Regions from separate parts of the Homo sapiens genome. Here all the other regions are linked to region 1. Evidence: fine-mapped expression QTL. A gene starts in region 1. Each other region holds a variant in brackets. All regions are shown on one strand. Distances are from middle to middle.

What was found. PIP is the estimated chance that this variant, and not a neighbour inherited with it, causes the effect. A credible set is the group of variants that fine-mapping cannot tell apart.
Region 2: its variant is the best candidate, but not a certain one, in a credible set for the expression of FCGR1A in blood mononuclear cells (TOPMed, PIP 0.56).
Region 3: its variant is the best candidate, but not a certain one, in a credible set for the expression of FCGR1A in whole blood (INTERVAL, PIP 0.86).
Region 4: its variant is the best candidate, but not a certain one, in a credible set for the expression of FCGR1A in whole blood (INTERVAL, PIP 0.90).

The regions. Positions count from the first base shown.
Region 1 is chr1:149,780,666-149,785,793 of GRCh38, forward strand. It overlaps FCGR1A (Fc gamma receptor Ia), which reads left to right and starts at 2,029. Exons shown (of 6, transcript NM_000566.4): 1 at 2,029-2,109; 2 at 2,505-2,525; 3 at 3,338-3,592. The coding sequence starts at 2,079. LOC124904411 reads right to left here. Exons shown (of 2, transcript XM_047438183.1): 2 at 2,225-2,595. It also overlaps a transcript of H2BC18 not described here.
Region 2 is chr1:149,755,298-149,760,450 of GRCh38, forward strand. All of the region lies in intron 2 of LOC105371406 (a long non-coding RNA gene), which reads left to right. It also overlaps the pseudogene TRR-CCT8-1. Among named protein-coding and RNA genes, the nearest start is that of TRN-GTT8-1, 18 kb to the left of the region's middle. The variant T/A (reference allele first, on the strand shown) is at 2,209.
Region 3 is chr1:148,968,704-148,973,856 of GRCh38, forward strand. PDE4DIP (phosphodiesterase 4D interacting protein) reads left to right here. Exons shown (of 47, transcript NM_001395426.1): 17 at 133-327; 18 at 3,477-3,641; 19 at 3,808-3,889. Among named protein-coding and RNA genes, the nearest start is that of PDE4DIP, 130 kb to the left of the region's middle. The variant T/C (reference allele first, on the strand shown) is at 2,754.
Region 4 is chr1:149,729,876-149,735,028 of GRCh38, forward strand. It overlaps LOC105371406 (a long non-coding RNA gene), which reads left to right and starts at 3,740. Exons shown (of 4, transcript XR_007066595.1): 1 at 3,740-4,656. It also overlaps the pseudogene PDE4DIPP7. The variant GTGTTTTGTTT/G (reference allele first, on the strand shown) is at 3,203.

The sequences.
Region 1 (5,128 bases):
AGAAAGAAAGTATTTTATCCTTCCAGGCTATAGATCTTACATTCCTCTTACACAACAATCCTAATTCCCTCATGTTATCCTGATCAATGAAATGATTTCACTTATTTTTCAAAGAAGTAGCTATTTTACTACAAAGCAGGAATCGCAAGGCATGGGGTGGGCACTGTTATACTCCATCAGTGAGTACGTAAAGGAAATCAAACTGTCTGATTTTGAATCCTGCTTCTATTTTTTACAACCTTGGACAAATTACTGATTTCCTCTTTCACTAGGTTTATCATTTGTAAAATGGAGATACTAGTGTCTACTCATGGATTATTGTGAGGCTTAAATAAGAAAACATGTATCAAGCATATTTGTCTGGCATGTAATAAGCACTCTAAAATTTATGCAGTGATGAGGATAATGATCATAGACAATCTGATAGCATCTTATCCAAAGGAAAAAATGCGCATTTCCTTTGAGTAAGCACTACTGATTCTAGGAATGTGTCCTAAGGAAAAAATAAGTCAAATGTTTAAAGGTAGTCACAAGACTATTTTGGTAGTAAGCAGTCTTTTTTACTGGTCACACAGTAAAAAATTAGAAATAACCTACATGTTCATGAAGAGAAGTTGGTGAAATAAATTATGGTACATGCATACAGTAGAAAACTTTGGAGACAAAATAGTAAAATAGTTACAGATATAGGCTTTGAATATAAATTTTAACAAGCTGAGGCTTCTCTCGTCTCTTCAGAACACCCTGAGTTCTTCCCGGCCTTTCTTCCTTGCTTTTCATTTGTGTCAGTCAGCTCTTGCTCGTATAGCAATCCTCAAATCTCAGTAGCATATAAAGGTAAGCATTTAGTTCTCACTTACAAGTTTGCAGGGCAGGTGAGGCAGCTCTGCCTCAAGCCACAATGTCTAGGACAGCTCTGTTTCGCACTGTGGCTGACTAGCTAAAAAATGTTCTTGTCTCAGCAATCACAGGAGAACAAGAGGGTGAGAGATAATGTGTGAAGCTTCCTAAGTGCTAAGTTTGAAATTAGCACCATGTCATTTCCATTCACATTTCGCTGGCCAATGAAAGTCTCATGATGAGCCACAGTCAAGAGTCAGAGACATACCCTCATGAGGCTGTGGAGAGAGTGTAGATTCAGGGAGCGGTGAGAAACTGGGGCCAGTACACCAACTTACAGCATGATTTGTCATCATTTTTCATTCTCTGCTAGTAAGATTGCCAAAGTCTCTCTGCACTCATTGAATTCATTTAGCTCTCTTTAGCTCTCTTTTTTTAGCTCTCATTTAGTTTCCATTTAGCTCTCTTTCTCTCTTACCACAATACCTAAAAATCTTTTTATGGGGTTACAACTCTGTCTCAGGAGCCACCTCAGTTTGGTGGCACAGAGCTCCCCACTTGTACTCTGAAACTCTTTTCTTGAAGATATTGCTATCCATGTGCATGAGTTATTTTTCTTCTCCATAGCATCCACATTAAACAATTAATTACCTTGGATTTAGCCAAAATAAACACTCCAAATTCATGATGTCTTTCAGGAAGAGAGTTTGTTTTCTTTTTTAACCAAAATGGGAGATTGATCCTGTCTGTGTCCCCTAGAGGAGCAGAGGCTGGTTTGTATTAGGGCAGCTCTTGTAGATGAGTAACTTTTCCCATGGCCTCATAGAGGCTGATATAGAAACTTCTGGATTCAAATGATTGTTTGGAGGCATTAGCCAGGCATTGAACCAATTATAAAGAGTGAGGTTTTGCCATATTCTAACCGTAAGAAACAGAAACGGTAGAGGGTAAAAATAGAATAGAATGTCAATACAACTTTAGCCTTTTCCCTGGATTCTGAGAGTTCATAACCTGAAAATCAGAGATTCAAACTGGGAGAGATGGGCTAACAGGTATGAGCATGGGAAAAGCATGTTTCAAGAATTTGAGATGTATTTCCCAGAAAAGCAACATGATGAAAATGGTCAGAAAAGGCAATTTCCTTCCTCTTTTCTAATTTGGCTCTGGAGCCACCAGCAGAACCTCTTCAATATCTTGCATGTTACAGATTTCACTGCTCCCACCAGCTTGGAGACAACATGTGGTTCTTGACAACTCTGCTCCTTTGGGGTAAGTTGGACTCAGAGGGGACAGTTAGAAGGGTACAGGCTGTGGCTGTTGTGAGTCAAGAGTTTTGTCTTCCTGTGGTAACTCTGGGTAGAACTCATGAGTATGAAGCAACTTGTATCTGTGCTTCCATGGTTTATTAGAGCTTATTTTATGAAAAGGATGGGAAGGGCAACCCTGAGGTAGCATTAAGCCTGGACGCACCGCAGTGAAGTTTCCTTGATAACCACCTGTAGCTTGTTCAGTTCTGTTAGTACTGGATTTTGAGAAAGAGAAATAGAAACTCAAGAGATCTGAGTTGATCCCTCAGAGTCTACATTAATTCTGTCTCCCCAATTCTCTCTTCCTCATTATTTTCCTTGGACCAACTGATATCTTTATTCTCTGATCTCTTGCAGTTCCAGTTGATGGGCAAGTGGGTGAGTGATCTCTAACTCAGCTTCTCCTTCTATGCCACTTTCCTACTTCCAAAGGATGGGTCCTATTAACCTGCAGAAGAGCATATAGGGAAAGCAGAGAAAGAAGAAAGATTTATAAATTATGTAAAATCTCCCATATTCAGAGCATGATTTTCATAAAAACTATGATTTGTAAGCTTTCTTTCTAAAGTTTTCTGAATGAGCTCTTTCCTCTGAGCGAAATGCCTGAATGTATATATAACAGCAGGAAAGGGCCAGAATTGCACAAACACTAAAGTAGTCTGCTGACACTGAAGTAGTCTGCTGGGTTTCCCAACATCCCCTAAACCAGTCCCCTTTACAAGAAAGCAGAGTGGGTTTTTTCTCCTCAGAAAGAGCCAGGCAAATACTGAAGGCTTCAAAGAGAGGAGTTTGAACCTCCGTTTCCAATGTACAAGCTGCTGAAGCCCTGCAATGTACTCTCAGAGACAGTATAGCTCAGAGGATAAGGAAAACAGCTCCGCTTGGCTTGCCCAAGTCTAAAACCCTGCTTCATTGCTCCCAACAGAAAAACCTACATCAGTAATTTAATCCTCAGGAGCCCCAGATTCCCAACACCCAGATGAGGATTTAATAACAATGAACAGAGGTCTCTGCAGCAGGAGGACACTCTTAAAGGCTGGCTTTTGTAGGTTTCCACTTGCCTATTTTTCAAATAAATCTAAATATGTATTTTTCCCTTGTGCTATCCACAAAAGCCTCACCAGTTGCTCAGAGCCCTCCCCTTTACTCCACTTGATCTTTTTCTTTTTCTTCTTGTAATCTCCAAGTAGACACCACAAAGGCAGTGATCACTTTGCAGCCTCCATGGGTCAGCGTGTTCCAAGAGGAAACCGTAACCTTGCACTGTGAGGTGCTCCATCTGCCTGGGAGCAGCTCTACACAGTGGTTTCTCAATGGCACAGCCACTCAGACCTCGACCCCCAGCTACAGAATCACCTCTGCCAGTGTCAATGACAGTGGTGAATACAGGTGCCAGAGAGGTCTCTCAGGGCGAAGTGACCCCATACAGCTGGAAATCCACAGAGGTAATTATGACTTGGACCAGGAGGGCCGGAAACCACAAGGTCTTCCTCTGCGTTCTCTCCTTTCTGGATGCCAGATGTGTGTGTGTCGATTTATCTGGGTGCAGGTCTCAGCACTATGTACCTACCAGGTGAAACTAAATCAGTATACTCAAAACATCACAGCAGGGTCCTTAAACTGTGTACCAACAGTACCTCAGCTAGGCCAGCTCTAAGTAGGATGTCTAGAGTAAGACTTAGGCCCTAAGATTGTATCATTATTCCAAATGTATGCCTGTACATAGTAAATAATAATAATTCAAACAAATGAGCAATAATGAACAATGAAATATCTTCCTCCCACCCAAAACCTAGATCTGCAGTCACCTTCCACAGAAACAAAACTGCTAATATATATATACATATTATGCATATATATGTATATATTAGCATTATTATATATAAACTATATATATATATATATATACACACATATATATAGTTTTAAAGCTGTGGGTGGTAGAACACTTTCTAAGTATTGTCCTATATCTTACTTTTATCACTTAAAATACCTTAAAGTTCTGTTTATATTAATAGAAATCCACTTTAAAATGTCTGCTGCACAGCTGTACCAGAATTAATTTAACCATTCTGCCTATTAGCAAATTTATAAGATGTTTCCACTCTTTTGATTTTACAAGCATTGCTGCAATAATTATCTTTATACATACATTCCGGGGGCACATTTCATAGGGTATCTGTAAGATAATATTCTGGACATGGAATTATTGTCATATTTTAATAAATGGAAGCAGAAAAGCCCACCACCCACTTAAACCTGTAAGGAGTTTCTATTCATCAAGAGATGGAGACTGCAATATTCTTCAGGGAAAAATGCTTCATTCAATATGCAAGACAAAATAACCAAATGTATTATTTAGTTATTCAGAAGTGATGAGTTTAAACTTCGTTAAAAATGATAATGCAAAAGTCAATCCACACTGGAGGCAAAATTGCCTTTATGCAGACATGGTTGCTGTTAGAGGAAATGTGTTTTAGCCAAGGAAATGTTGAGAATGTCTGAGGGAAGGCTTGATGTTCCTCATGTGTCCCTTAGGTCTCTGTAAATAAGTTCTTAGGATGGAGAGGTTAGGGAAGCTGACAGAGCTGTTTCGTTTTTTTTTTTTTTTTTTTTTTTTTTGAGACAGAGTCTCACTCCGTTGCCCAGGCTGGAATGCAGTGGTGTGATCTTGGCTCACTGCAACCTCTGACAGAGCTGTTTCAACAAGATACTTTGGGTAATTCAAGCAGAAGTGTTTCATGGTTCAAGTGACAACAAAAGGACTAGGGCTGGGAAGAGTCCATTTTCTTTACCTCTACACAGACTCTAGGACACTCAGCATCAGTGACTTACTGAGAATCATATCTTTTTTATATTACATTTTAATGTGAATTTTCATTGAAATATAACTTATGTACAACAAGCCATAAATGTATGCCACAGTAAATTTTTTCAAAGTAAACAGCATCCAGATCTATTTTAGACATTTCCAGCACCTC
Region 2 (5,153 bases), 25 kb before region 1:
AGTAGACCCTCAAATCCATCTCCTCAAGAACTTCTGCGTTAGGGTTTTTAAGGGGATTGTGGAGGGTGAGGGGTTGGAAAATTAAGGTTGTTGATTGGGCAGGGGAAGGGGGATGAAATCATTAGGATTTGGAAACTGCATACTGAGTCAGTTCCTCAGTGGGGTCCTTCAGACCAGCTGACATCAGTAGTTTCACTGGTACACAGGATCTGAAAGAATATCTCTAACGGGAAACTTAACATTTCATAATCTTCAGGTTGTTATCTATAGAACAGTTCAGGAGAACTATAATCTAGGGCCTGCCTGATTCTAGCACAAACAGCACCAAACAACTGTGAGGAAGCAGGTCCAAGAGCAGGCTGCTCTCAAGAGTAATGCAAAATTGCTGCAAGCTTGTTTATTTTTGTTTCTCCCCTTCCCTTCTTCCCTGATTAATTTTATAAAGTTTATAGGGACAGTTTCAATGGCTTCAACACAGTATTGCCAGGTAAGGACTTGAACCCAAGAGGCGGAAGTTGCAGTGAGTCAAGACCAAGCCACTGCTGCACTGCCCAGTCTCAAAAAATAAAAATTAAAAAAAAATCAGGCCAACACCTGTTGACACACATTGCTAGGAATCCCTTTGGGAAAGCAAATGGGCTCACGGAACACACGGAGGCCATGGTGGGTGACAATGTTAACTAATTCTGTTCATGGTGTCCAGGGTACAGGCCTGAGGGTCCACTCGCCACCTCTGCCCAAAGCCACGTCTCCACTGCTCCCCTCATCTCCGCACGGATTCCTCCCCACGTGCCTCCCCTTTTCTTGGACTGCCGACACCTGACACCACCAAGGTGACTGCTCCTCCCCACAGCTTCTCTCCTTCAGGGGACTTCACTTCTTGTTCCTCGCTCCATAGTGAGGCGTGACCCAGCGGTCAGCCCAAGGTCTAGCATGCGAATCAGGGACGTGATGGTTCTTTGGGATTCTAGGGATCTACCTGGAGAATAGATGAAAGTAACAAAAGTTTTACATACCAATATTCAAAACTGCATCAAACTACCAGAAACACTTGCCACTTTCAAAGATAGACTATGCTAAGTAGCTCCAGGTGTGTGCCACCATGCCTGGCAAATTTTTGTATTTTTAGTAGAGACTGGGTTTCACCATGTTGGCCAGGCTAGTCTCAAACTCCTGACCTCAGGTGATCCACCTGCCTTGACCTGCCAAAGTGCTGGGATTACAGGAATGGCTCTTGACTCTAACTGCAAGGTCCCTAGATCATTAGATCATTTCCTGAATATCTTATGCTTCAGGCATTGGCCATCACTTGGGTTACCATTGTCATAAATCAAAAGCCTCCACAACCAAGGCCCTTAAACATGGGATAGCCTGTGCAGGGCAGAAGTATAAAGAATATAGAGAAGTGAAGCACAAAACTTGTTGCATTGGCCAGGAATTAAACCAGGGTCTCCTATGCAGGCGGTGAGAATTCTACCACTGGACCACAAATCCGGCTCTTATGTGTGGTCCTGGAGAAACAATTGAAATACAATACTGAAAAAGACAGAAATTGTTCCAAAAGAAGCTTTTTGCAGTATTGACTAAAAGCTAACAGTAGACATCCAAAACCAAGGTTTTTACAGAATACTTTTACTAGACAAAACTATAAATATTAAAATAGCTTATTTGATCAAACTTTAATTCCGAAAAAGGCTCCTTCCAACTGCGTAACAGACTCCTATAGAAAAACATCAGAAATTCATCCAGGTTCCTTGTTTCTGATCCTAAATCTTCAATTTAGGACCTCAACCTCAAACTGTTGCTTTAGTGGCTCTGGGAAGGAAGCACTAACTGGCAGCATAGGTAAGTAAAGTTTTAATCTAGGGAAGAAATAAGAAGCAGAATCAGAATTAGAATTAGAAGAAAGAGGGAATATGCTATACCAGAATATCATAGGCAAAAAAAGAAGACAAAGAAAGAGGAAATGAAAGGACAGAAGGTAATGCTAATGGAGTTAGTTATTTGTGGCCGTTTTTTGTAAAAGAGTAATGATCAGTCTTGTAATCATTATAATACTATTATTTGCTTTCTAAAATGTCTAAAATATTTGAAGGAATTTATGATATAAAAAGATGAATAATGCTTGCAGTCAGTGTTTCATTGTTTGGGAGAACCCAGTTTCCTCAGTTAATACACTTTCGTGTAATAGCTGTTTAAGGAGTAACA[T/A]GGTTTAAAGACATATTAATGGCTGAAATATTAACATATTGGTCTTTTGATGAAGTTCAAATAGAGAGATTTCTTTCCCCAATTTTCCCTGGAAAGATTAAACTGAAGAGAAAAATCTGGAAAGTTTGCCCCACATGTTGGGTCTGGGAGTCATTATGATTTTTTCAAAGACAGGAGTTGTGTATGACATGGAATCATGCTTCTTCTCTAGTTGAGAAGCCAAGCTAGGTCCAGGCTGAGTCATAAACTTGAACCCAACAAGGAAATCACCCTTCACACTGGCCTTGCAGAGCTTTGGCTCAATCTGTTCTCTGCCCAACACCCAAGACACATACTAGTTCTGGCCAACAAACCTTCACATATTGTCTGTGTCAACCAGAGCTACATTTATTCCGAAATCTCTTTCTAAAATACAAACCTGTACTTTCTACTCTCAACCCCAAAATTTACAAGAGGCCTCATATGCATCTCAGAGTCACAGATGCTAAAACTCAACACACCAGTGAGTTCCCTGTCAGCATCATATACTACCCTCTACCTCAATGATCAGCCCCAAGCCAGCATCTCCCAAAGAGTAGTGTGTTGCTGTGGGTGTTTCAACAGATCACTAAAACCTGCTTCTACCCCTGCCTAGACACTTATCCTCACTGCTATGCATCCTGCTCCTCAAATCAGATCTTGATATCTTCTTTAAACACTCCCAATCTCCCAACACGACAATTCATTTCCAAAGAATTATAGTATTTAAATTTATTGGACTCTATACAGACTCATTCCCACTTTGTTACTACGCTGGTCCATCCATCACCTCCATTAACATAAGTAGATCAAAAACTGGCCTCTCTACAGCCAGTCTTGTCTATTCCAACCCATTTGCCACACTGTATCCTGAGTGACCTTTCCACAGTGTAAATCTGGACATACCTGTAGCCTTAAATCATATCTACCAACATAGTAGCCAAGCAACAGCAATCTCTTTTCCTTTGGTCATTAGAGTCCTAGAGACCAAGAGGATGTTGGGAAAAGAATTACCATGGATCAGCTCTCAGAGGCAGTAGGTTCTGGACTCATGCTGGCTTTGATACGTGTGCATTGGAAAAGCTCAAGTACCTGGCAATACTTGGAGATTAGGAAGAAAGGATGAAAATAAACCACTGCACTAAATAACATGACAATAATCACTTATACAAAAATTTTAAAGATAAGGAATATTTAAAGATTTATTAGTTTATTATAGCTTTATAGTTGGAGAGTGAAGAAGAAAATACCAAAGCTTTTTGTCTTAACAAAATGGTGCAGACAGATTAACATATATTGTCACCTATGATAACCAGTCAGCATAAAAAGTATTTAGAAAGGAATGGTTATATTCTCTAAGAGATATATTCTGATGTCATGTTTTTTGCTTTAGAGTCTATTAATATAGCCACCTTTTTGTTAATGTTTTCAGTCAAGCTCCTTTTCTCGCCTTTCATTTCCAACCTTTCTCTCACTTTCTGGTTTAGATACAACTCCTAAATATATCATATAGTTAATTTAAAAATCCAGTGTAGCAGTATTTCGGGGGTTTGTTTTACTGGATAATTTGGTCCACTTACATTTAATGTAATTGTTGATATATATTAATTTTAAATCTACCATCTTTATTTTTTTCTGTTTGTTCTGCTTGTTCTGTTTCTATGTCTTTTCTTGTCTGTTTTGGATTGGTTATTTTTAACTATTATAACATTATATTTTTTTACTTTTTTATATGCTTTGCTTCACTTTCTTCCTTATTGTATTTCCTTTAATTGTATTTAAGTTGCTTCTATTCTTTTGTGGTTACTTTAAAAATTACAATCTTAATCCTTAATTTTTTTTTTTTTTTTTTTTTTTTGAGACAGAGTCTCACTCTGTCTCCAGGCTGGAGTACTGTGCCACGATCTTGGCTCACAGCAACCTCTGCCTCTCGGGTTCAAGTGATTCTCCTGCCTCAGCCTCCCGAGTAGCTGGGACTACAGGTGCAGCTAATTTTTGTATTTTTTTAGTAGAGACAGGGCTTCACTGTGTTGGCCAGGATGGTCTCCATCTCTTGACCTCATGATCCGCCCACCTTGGCCTCCCAAAGTATTGGGATTACAGGCGTGAGCCACCGTGCCCAGCTAATCCTTAATTTATTAAACATAGTAATAATTGATACCGTTATCCTCTTCCTGCACAATATATGGATGTTGGAATACTTTTATTCCATTTAGTCTCATTCTATATATATGCTGTTATCATTTATTAGGTCTAAGTATTAATAGTTTTAAACCCCAGAAGACTAGACATATATTTTATGTAGTTAATGTTAATTTAGATTTATCAACATATGTGCTGCTATCTTACTCTTTATTTCTGCTATGTCTCTGAATTTCCATATGTAATCATGGTCCTTCTGCCTGAGAAACATCATTTAGAATTTCCTTTTGTGTTGGTCTGCTTGTGAAAAACTGTTTCAGCTATTTTTCTCTGAAAGTGTCTTTATTTGCTTTAATTATTGGAGATTATTTTTACTAAGTATGTAATTCTGGAGGCAGTTATTTTCTTTCAGCATATTGAAGATATTTACATTTGATTGTTTCTTTTCAGAAGGCAGCCAATTGTCTCGCTGCTGCTTATTTGAATGTAATGTTCCTTTTTTTCCTCTGTTTTTTGTCTTTACTATTTTTGTCTTTGTTTTTTTTTTTTTATTGTCTGCAGTTTTACTACTCTGTCTTTAGGTATGGAGTTCCCTTTATTTATCTTCTTTGATTGGTAGGCCTTCTAGAATCTGTTGACTTTTGAGTTTCATTTTGTCTGGAAAACTCTCAAGTATTATCTCTTCAGTTATTGCCTCTATTTTCTCTCTCTTCTACTTTTGAGCCTCTAACTAAAAATAAAGTAGACTTTCTCACTCTATTTGTTATATTTTTGTGTTTGTGTAT
Region 3 (5,153 bases), 810 kb before region 1:
ATGAGTAAAACATGATACTTATTCTCAAGAATCTCACACCTCCTTCTTCTATGATAGATTCTTATAAGCCCTTTGATATTTAGCAGAGGCATTTCTTTCCTCCAGAAGCTTACAGTGTCCTTTCTGCATTAGGATCTTAGTGCAACACTGCTCTGCAAACTTGGACCAGGGCAGAGTGAGATAGCAGAGGAGCTGTGCCAGCGTCTACAGCGAAAGGAAAGGATGCTGCAGGACCTTCTAAGTGATCGAAATAAACAAGTGCTGGAACATGAAATGGAGATTCAAGGCCTGCTTCAGTCTGTGAGCACCAGGGAGCAGGAAAGCCAAGTAAGGATTAATGCACAGATCAGACAAGTGTCATGTAGTGCATTTATAGTCTGCAAATAGGAAGCATTTGCAGACTATAGATGTGTGTATATTTATATATTTTACCGTCAACTCTGTTAGTTTCTTTCCTTCTATTTATTACCTAAACCACAGTTTTATTTATTTACTTACTTATTTAGAGATGGGGGTTTCGCTGTGTTGCACAGGCTGGTCTCAAACTCCTGGGCTCAAGCAATCATCCTGCCTTGGCTTCCCAAAGTGCTGGGACTATACGTGTGAGCTGCTGCGCCTGGCCTTAGACCACAGTTTTACATTAATCATCAAAGTATGACACATTTCTTGAAAACCTTGCATTTGGAAGGGTGCCTAAACAATACATGTATCCATTAACTTCATTACATACATTTTCTTTTCCTTAATAATCTGATAATTTTGAGAGAAAGGAGTAGGGGTTGTGAGTGTTTCGATTTTGATTCTAAATTGTTAAGACTTGAGTGATATTTTGCATTTCCAGTCAAGGTATGGGAAAACTTACACTCAACATGTTTACTCTTAGTTTTTGTAAAATCTGAGTTAAGAGGGAAAAAAGATCGCATTTTTCAGAGGTCATGGTGAGAATAAACAATCTCATAATAGTACAGGGTATATTAATTTCACAATATTTAAGAAGTAAATTCTTTTTTTTTTTTTTTTTTGAGATGGCATCTCCCTCTGTCACCCAGCTGGAGTGCGATGGCGCAATCTTGGCTCACTGCAACCTCTGCCTCCTGGGTTCAAGCAATTCTTCTGCTTCAGCCTCCCAAGTAGCTGGGATTACAGGCATGCACCACCATGCCCGCTAAGTTTTGTATTTTTAGTAGAGATGGGGTTTCACCATGTTGGCCAGGCTGGCTTACGATTCCTGGCCTCAAGTGATCCACCCATCTCAGCCTCCCAAAGTGCTGGGATTACAGGCGTGAGCCACCATGCCCTGCCCATAGTAAAGTGTTAATTTTTCCTCATTTCTATGTGTTTTCTCCTCAAGGCTAAAAACTCTTAGTTGACTTGTGCTGCATTTCAGATACCAGTAGCTCAGAATCCCCGTAGTCAGTTTTTAGAGGAAGATAGACTCTTTTTTGCCTATGTTATTTGACCCCATAATATTTTCTTATGTTTTCTTATGTTGTGAAAGGATTATACTCCACTATTCTAATTGTTAGGCCCACTGAAGTAAATACACATCTTTCTAGAAAGGTCCTGCTGTGTGCTTCAGAAATTGTTTCTAAAATAGACCTAACAAAATTATTCTAAATTATTTAAATCTTTGGCAAGAGGCTAGGATCTTTGAGTTTTCTTTTTAACTTCTTTGTGATTTGGGACAATTGGTCTTTATTATACCTCAGAAAAAAAATTATGCACTGCTGGTAATAGAATAATGGAGATGATGGAAATTACAGGAGATTTTTCAACTCAAGAAGATTAATGGTTGTATTCTTCTAGATCTGCTTCTCTAAATTTACGTGCAAAAGAAATCACCTGAATAGCTTTTTAAAGATGTAGATTGTGGAGCTCAACTCCAGAGAAAGAAATTACGAGGTATAGGTGGGACTTAAGAATTTGCATTTCTAACAAGTTTCCAGGTGATAGTGATGCTGCAGGTTCGGGGACTGCATTGGAGGAGCACTGCTAAAAACTCTTAAATACTACGAGAAAAGGAGTGCCAAGGCAGATAGAGCACAGTATATATCTTGTATATTATTTATTATGTTTTTTCCCCACAGTTTTCACAGATATTTTTATTAAGGTACTTTAATAATATTCTGATACGTCTAAAATAGTTAAATTCAAATCTCCAAAGAGCCCAAATTTTACTTACTGAAAAGTGGAAGGTTTTTTCATATTTCCCCTAGAAATTGTGACAAGAGCTCAGCTTCTGCCCTAAAACAATAGTACTTTTCCTCAGAGACAGTTGGTGTTATGATTCATCATCTTAGACCCTCAGTAATTTTAATATCAATTTATTATTTCCAGATTTTCTGTTTAAATGCAGACTTCCTGTGCATTAATAGTTAAAAATGTTCTAGATCTTTCCCTTAGTGTGTCATCATCTGTCTTAGAAAACTGGGATTTGAAATGAAACAAGCTGAGTTGGGTGATTTTGAGGTTGAGATTATCCTAATCATGTGGTCTGATAAACATGTTTATGTGCGTAATTGATTCATTCAGTAAATATGTAGTGTGTGCCTATTATGTGCCAGACACCGTACTGGGTGCTTGAGATTCAGCACCAAATTGCCTTTAGGAAACTTACATTCCATGTAGGGGAAGCAGAGAGAGAGATCTATTAGATAATGGTAAGTGCATCGAAAAAAAATTAAGCACAGTAAGAAGTGTTGGAGATAGAGAAGAGATTGCTGGGTTTTAAAAAAAATTTTTTCCCAGCTTTA[T/C]TAAAGTATAATTGACAAATATTGTATATACTCAAGGTGTACAGCATGATGTGTTGATATACATATACATTTTGAAGTGATTGCCACAAATTAACACATCCGTCACTACACATTTTATGCGTGTATGGTGAAACCACTTAAGATCTACTCTCTTAGCAAATTTCAAGTAAATAATACAGTATTATTAACTAAAGTCACCATGCTATCATTGGATCCCCAAAACATATTCATCTTATACTTTGGCCAGCAAGATTGCTGTTTTGGATAGGATACGCAGGAAAGACCAACCTGATAAGGTGACATTTGGCAAAGACCTGAAGGGAGCAAACCACACAAATGTTTGAGTGAAAAGGAATCCACCCCTAAGAAGCAACTATCCGAGAATAAAGACATTTGTTATACTAATTCAAACCAGAATCTTAACACCTTAGCCTGATAGTTGTAGCAGAACCTATTTCAGATTCTCTTATCTGTTACAGATGTGTTAAATTCAGTTTTTTTTCCCAATATTCTGCCTATGAGACTTTCTTTCCATTCACTTAACTCTGTTTTTCCCTGTAAACTGAAAGCAAGGAAACTATTTCCTAAGGACCCACTGTTTTTTGTTGTTGTCATTGTTGTTTGTTTTTTACAAATGGTTGACTTTGAAGAAATAATACCAGAACAAAAAATTTGTTTTACTAGAATATCTTTATAATGTTATTTGTGATTTCCTCTTACTAGGCTGCTGCAGAGAAGTTGGTGCAAGCCTTAATGGAAAGAAATTCAGAATTACAGGCCCTGCGCCAATATTTAGGAGGGAGAGACTCCCTGATGTCCCAAGCACCCATCTCTAACCAACAAGCTGAAGTTACCCCCACTGGCCGTCTTGGAAAACAGACTGATCAAGTAAGAACTATAGACTTACATAATTCATGCTGATTCCATTTCCTTTTTACATTTGAGGTGTAAGTTTGATAATTTTAATACCAAATTCTGAGAATATTCTCAGTACTGTCATTGTGATCATAGTTCCTGCATCTTCCTAAGTCCCCTGACTTTTGCAATTTTTTAGGGTTCAATGCAGATACCTTCCAGAGATGATAGCACTTCATTGACTGCCAAAGAGGATGTCAGCATACCCAGATCCACATTAGGTAAGTATCAAATTTCATTTCATTAAGGGACTTTGTTTTTCTCTTGTTTTTTCTTCTAGTAATCTCTGTATTATAGGTTTGGCCAAGACTCTTTTCTCTTCCTACCTTAATAGAACAAATAAGTTTGGAATTCCTCTGAAAGGCTGAAGAACTGTCCTTACCTTATGTTGAGTTGAGCTGATTGCTCTGGGTTCACAATTCGGCCCAGAGAAATTCTATCCTTACTCTCCTTTTCAGATAGCTTTGCAGGGATTCAGAAATGCAGGAGGTAATTGTTCCAATCCTGCACAGCAGGGCCATGAGCTGACACCTTTTCCTGGGTATCGTTTCAAGTCTGGGGCCACTCACTGTAACTTGACATCACCTACTAATGTTATATATATATATAATGTTAGCATAGTTTGATAGTTTCTGGCACAATAAGATGTTCTATGATTACCTTTTGCTTTACCTGCCTCAGTCCCAGAATCAGCCATTATCCTAAAGAGCTCCCTGGTTCCTTTTGGTGGGTAATGGCATTCAGAAACTATGATCTGGACACAAGATGTGTTCATTGCTACATGAATGCCTTTTGCTTCTAGGACCTTTTTTTTTTTTGAGACGGAGTCTCGCTCTGTCACCCAGGTGGGAGTGCAGTGGCACGATCTCTCTGCTCACCTCTCGAGTAGCTGGGACTACAGGCGCCAGCCACCACACCCAGCTAATTTTTTTGTATTTTTAGTAGAGACGGGGTTTCACCGTGTTAGCCAGGATGGTCTCAATCTCCTGACCTCGTGATCCGCCCTCCTCGGCCTCCCAAAGTACTGAGATTACAGATGTGAGCCACTGCGCCCAGCCGCTTCTAGGCCCTTTTAAGAGAACAGAACTAGCAATGAATATTTTTAAGTATGTATGTGTGTATTTGTATATATGTGAAGATTTGATACTGATTTCCTTAATTCCAATTTAACAATATAGGTTCTTTTTTCCCTCATTTCATATTTGTATCTCCTTGAGAGCCCTGGTTACTTATAGCATCAATATATTTCAAAATATTTACACAGTTGCAGAATACTATAATATGCAAAAGTATTTTTGGAATTGTTACATAAATATCACCATCAACAATAAATGTATTAAGTAATGTTTAAGATTTTTTTGTAATTCTTTTTATCCTTAGGATATTTTGCACTGACAGTGTTCAGTTAGAGTAGTAGTGAGTTCAAAAATTATTTGGATTAATTTTTTTATTATCTTCTGGATGGTTTTGTTATCTATTTGCTAT
Region 4 (5,153 bases), 51 kb before region 1:
TGACAAAATTCAACACTCATTCATCATAAAAACTCTCAACAAAGTGGGAATAGAGGAGACCTTCCTCAACTTGATAAAGAACATCTATAAAAACTCTACACTAATGTCATACTAGAAACTAGAAGCTTTCTCACTAACATCAACAATAAGGCAAGAATTTCCCCACTTACCACTTCTTTTCACCATCATACTGGAAATCCTAGCTAATGCAGTAAGATAAGCAAAGGAAATAAATGGTATACAGATTAGAAAAGATGAACTAAAACTGTCTTTGTTCACACGTGATGCAGTTATTGTATTATAGAAAATCTCCAACATGGTGAAACCCCGTCTTTACAAAAAATACAAAAATTAGCCGGGCGTGGTGGCATGCGCTTGTAATCCAGCTACTTGGGAGGCTGAGGAAGGAGAATTGCTTGAATCCGGGAAGCAAAGGTTGCAGTGAGATGACATCGTGCCACTCTGCACTCCACCCTGAGTGACAAAGTGAGACACTGACTCAAAAAAAAAAAAAAAAAAAGGCCGGGCGCGGTGGCTCATGCCCGTAACTCCAGCACTTAGGGAGGTCGAGGTGGGCGGATCATGAGGTCAGGAGATCGAGACCATCCTGGCTAACACAGCGAAACCCCGTCTCTACTAAAAAAACAAAATAGTAGCCAGGCTACTCAGGAGGCTGAGGCAGGAGAATGGCTTGAACCCAGGAGGCGAAGCTTGCAGTGAGCCGAGATTGAGCCACTACACTCCAACCTGGGCGACACAGTGAGACTCCATCTCAAAAACAAAAAGAAAAGAAAAGAAAATCTGAAAGAATTGACAACAAAAATCTCCTGGAACTAGTAAGTGATTATGTCAAGGTAAAATCTAACAAAACATGTACAAGATCTGTATGAGGAAAACTGCAAAACTCTGTTGAGAGAGATCAAAGAAGCACTAAATACACAGAGAGATATTCTGTGTTCATGGACAGGAAGACTAAATATTGTCAAGATGTCAGTTCTTCCCAACTTGATCTAAAGATTCAATGCAATACCAATCAAAATCTCAGCAAATAAATTTTGTGAATATCAACTAATAGATGCTAAGGTGTACATAGAGAGGCAAAAGACCCAGAATGGCCAACACAATATTGAAAAGGAACGGAGGGCTGATATGACCTGACTTCAAGACTTACTGTAAAGCTACAGTAATCAGGACAGTATAAGATTTGTGAAAGAATAGACAAATAAGTCAGCGGAACAGAATAGAGATTCCAGAAGACTCCAAAATATAGCAGATTGATCTTTGACAAAGGGACAAGGGCAATACAATGGAGAAAAGATAGTATTTTCAAAAAATGGTGCTGGAACAGCGGGACATCCACATGCAAAAAAAGTGAATCTAGACACAGACTTCACATTCTTCATGAAAACTTACACAAAATGGATCATAGGCCTAAATGTAAAACATAAAATGATTAAAAAAAAAAACCCTAAAAGATAACAACAGCTGAAAATCTAGATGACCTTGGGATTGGTGATGACTTTTTATTTATTTTATTTATTGATCTAAAGATTCAATGCAATACCAATTTTAATTTAGAGACAGAGTCTCTAAATAAATTAATTATTTTATTTATTTGTTGGAGGGCATGATCATGGCTCACTGAAGCATTCCTTGGGCATGATCATGGTGTGATTATGGCTCACTGCAGCCAAACTCTTGGGCTCAAGTGATCCTCTTGCCTCAGCCTTCCAAAGTGCTGGGATTGCAGGTGTGAGCCACCGAGCCCAGCTATATGATAACTTTTCAGATATAACACAAAAGGCATGATCCACAAAAGAAATAATTGATAATCTGGACTTCATTAAAATTAAAAACTTCTGCTCTGCAAAAGGCACATCAAGAGAATGAGAAGACAACACACTGGGTGAAAATATTTGCAAAAGACATATCTGGTAAAGGACTATTAAGCCAAATACACAAAGAACTCTTAAACTCAACAATAAGAAAATGAACCACACAATAAAAAATGGGCAAAAAACCCTGAACAGACACCTCACCAAAGATGATGGCAAATAAGAATATGAAAAGATGCTCAACATCATATGTCATTAGGGAATTGCAAATTAAAACAACAAGATACCACTCTACACCTATTAGAATGGCAAAATCCAGAACACTGATAACACCAAATGCTGGTAAGGATGTGGAACAACAGATATTCTCATTCCTTGCCGGTGGGAATGCAAAATAGTACAGCCACTTTGGAAGACAGTTTGGCATTTTCTTGTGAAACTAAACATACTCTTACCAAATGACCTAACCATCTGCTCCTCAGTATTTTCCCAAGCGAGCTGAAAACTTAAGTTCACACAAAAACCTGCACATGATGTTTATAGCAGCTCTATTCATAACTGCAAAAACTTGGAAGCAACCAAGATGTCCTTCAGTAGGTGAATGGATAAATTTTGGTACATGCAGTCAATGGAATATTATTTGGTACTAAAAAGAAATGAGTTATGAAGCCATGAAAAGACATGAAAGAACCTTAAGTGTGTAAGTGAAAGAAGCCAACCTAAAAAAGCTACATACTGTATGACTCTGACTATATGACACTATGGATAGGTAAAACAGTGGAGACAGTAAAAAGATCAGTGGTTGCCAGGTGTTAGGAGGGAAAGGAGAATGAATAGGCAGAGCACAGAGAATTTTTAGGGCAGGGAATAGTCATTCTTTATTACAATGGTGGATGCATGCCATTATACATTTATACTTGTGTCAAAATCTATAGAATATACACCACCAAGAATGAACCCCACTGTAAACTGTGGACTTTGGGTGATGATGAGTCAATGTAGGTTCATCAGTTGTACCAAATGTTATCACTCGGGGGCAAGATGTTGATAGTGAGGGAGGCTGTGTCCGTGCAGGGGTAGGGGGCATATGGGAACTCTCTGTTACTTTCCACTCAATTTTGCTGTGAACTTAAAGCTGCTCTTAAAAAGTCCATTAAAAAAAAGAATGATCACAGAAGTATAATTTTTAAAAATATATTTGATGAAGTGGGTGTAGTGTAGCCTTTGTGAATCGAGAGCACAGGATTCTAATGTTATCTCTGCCAGAGGCTATTATGCAACTTTGATCAAATGACTATCTCTTAGGGCCTAAGTGTTCTCAGTTCTAAAATGAGGTAATGAGACTAACTGACTCTAGAGTTTTTTGG[GTGTTTTGTTT/G]TGTTTTGTTTTGTTTTGTTTTGTTTTGTTTTGTCTGAGATGGAATCTTGCTCTGTCATCCAGGCTGAAGTGCAGTGGCGCTATCTTGGCTCACTGCAATCTCCACCTCCCAGGTTCAAGCAATTCTCCTGCCTCAGCCTCCCAAGTAGCTGGGATTACAGGTGCCCACCACCATGCCCAGCTAATTTTTGTATTTTTAGTAGAGACGGGGTTTCACCATGTTGGCCAGGCTGTCTCCAATTCCTGACCTCAAGTGATCTGCCCACCTCAGCCTCCCAAAGTGCTGAGATTACAGGCGTGAGCCACTGCGCCTGGCCTAGCGTTATTTTAGCCCTAACATTATTCTCTGGGTCAGTGAAATTTAAGTGGAATATATTGGGCAGTGACCTAATGGAGCATGAAGCAGGATTTGAATCACTTCCAAAGCTGTGCACCAACCACTTAGGCAAATTACTGATTTCAGTAACTTAGTATTTCAGTAACTGGCGCTCACAGGCAAATGCGTAATGGATTAACCCCATATTATTTAAATGCTTCCAAAAAGCTATAGGAAAATGGCCATTAAAAACAAACTGACAAATTTAGCCAACAAGCCACTATTTGACAATTCTGCAAGCTTATTTTTAAAATTCAGCTTATCAAAACTGCCATTCCAGAAGCCAGGGACCTGAGTTTCCATAGAGGATGGAGTAGAATGGAGGGGCCTCTGTATAAATCTACCTCCTCGGGAACTGGGACAGTTCAGCATTCACCAGAGTAACATATGAAGAAACAGGAGATTCCTACATGCTCCTGGGGATCCAGAAGAGAGACCACTCACATGACTGGAAGATTTCCAGCTCAGGTAACCACAAAGGCCATATATTTGGTGAATACATGCAATGTTAGTTAGAATAAAACCAAATTTCTCTGAATAATATAAAGTCATTACTAATAAAACTTTTATAGATTTTTCTCTGAAGAAATTTCCAGGAAGGTATTAAGAGAAAGCCCTACAATTAAGGTATGGAGGCTGGCTGCAGGCCCTGAAAGCTACTCTGACGAGCAATGACTTAATGCTGATAGTGGGAAGTCTCTTGCCCACTGCAGGATACAGAGAATTCTTCCTCAACCCGAGGCTTCTGCTCATTCACTCCCTTCTCAGCAGGTCCCTTCTTCTCTGAGGGCTGATGCATCCCAGCCTTCTGCTGGGACATTTTCTCATGAAGAGCTCTCTTACAGCCGTCTTTGAAAGGAAGGACAGAGAAGAAAGATGTCTATGTCTTCACAATGGCCAGGCTTTTCTCCAAAACTACCTAAAGCAATTGAAACAAAATTATGGCTTACAGAGGTTAGATTATTAGTGGAGATCCTGTAGGACGATAGAATCTCAAGAGCAGAGCCTACCAGGAAGTAGAGTGAAGCCTACAACTTCCTCAGCCATGAGGACCCAACAATCCACTGGGTAAAAGAAAGATGCAGCAAGTGCTGGGGTGGGGTCGGGGTGGGTGCTGTTATGAGAAGGAAGGGGAGGTCCCACAGGTGTTTAGAAGAAAAAACAGGCAATAAATGAATGAAAACAAATGGGGTTTAAACTAAGCTAAGGGATGAGTATTTTTGTTTCTTATAGCTGAGATAAAGTTCTTATGAAGTTCCCAGGGAATGTCCCTTCAGAGGTCAGGAAGCATTTTGCTTCCACAAGTTTTGAGAGTCATGAAGGCAGGAACACATTTTCAGATGCCAGAGCTCAAATCCCATGTCACTGGGACATCAACAATAGTGCTATGGGGAAGACTCAGGGTGCCAGCTCTTGAGTCACAATCACAGAATTAGAATGTGGAAGTAGCTACAGAACCCAAGGAAGCCCTGACTTCTGATAGCCACACTCAATGCAAGGCTGCGTATTTCACCCTGGAGGTCTCTATAACAGGGGAGGCCACCCCCTCAATAGCCAGCTTTTTT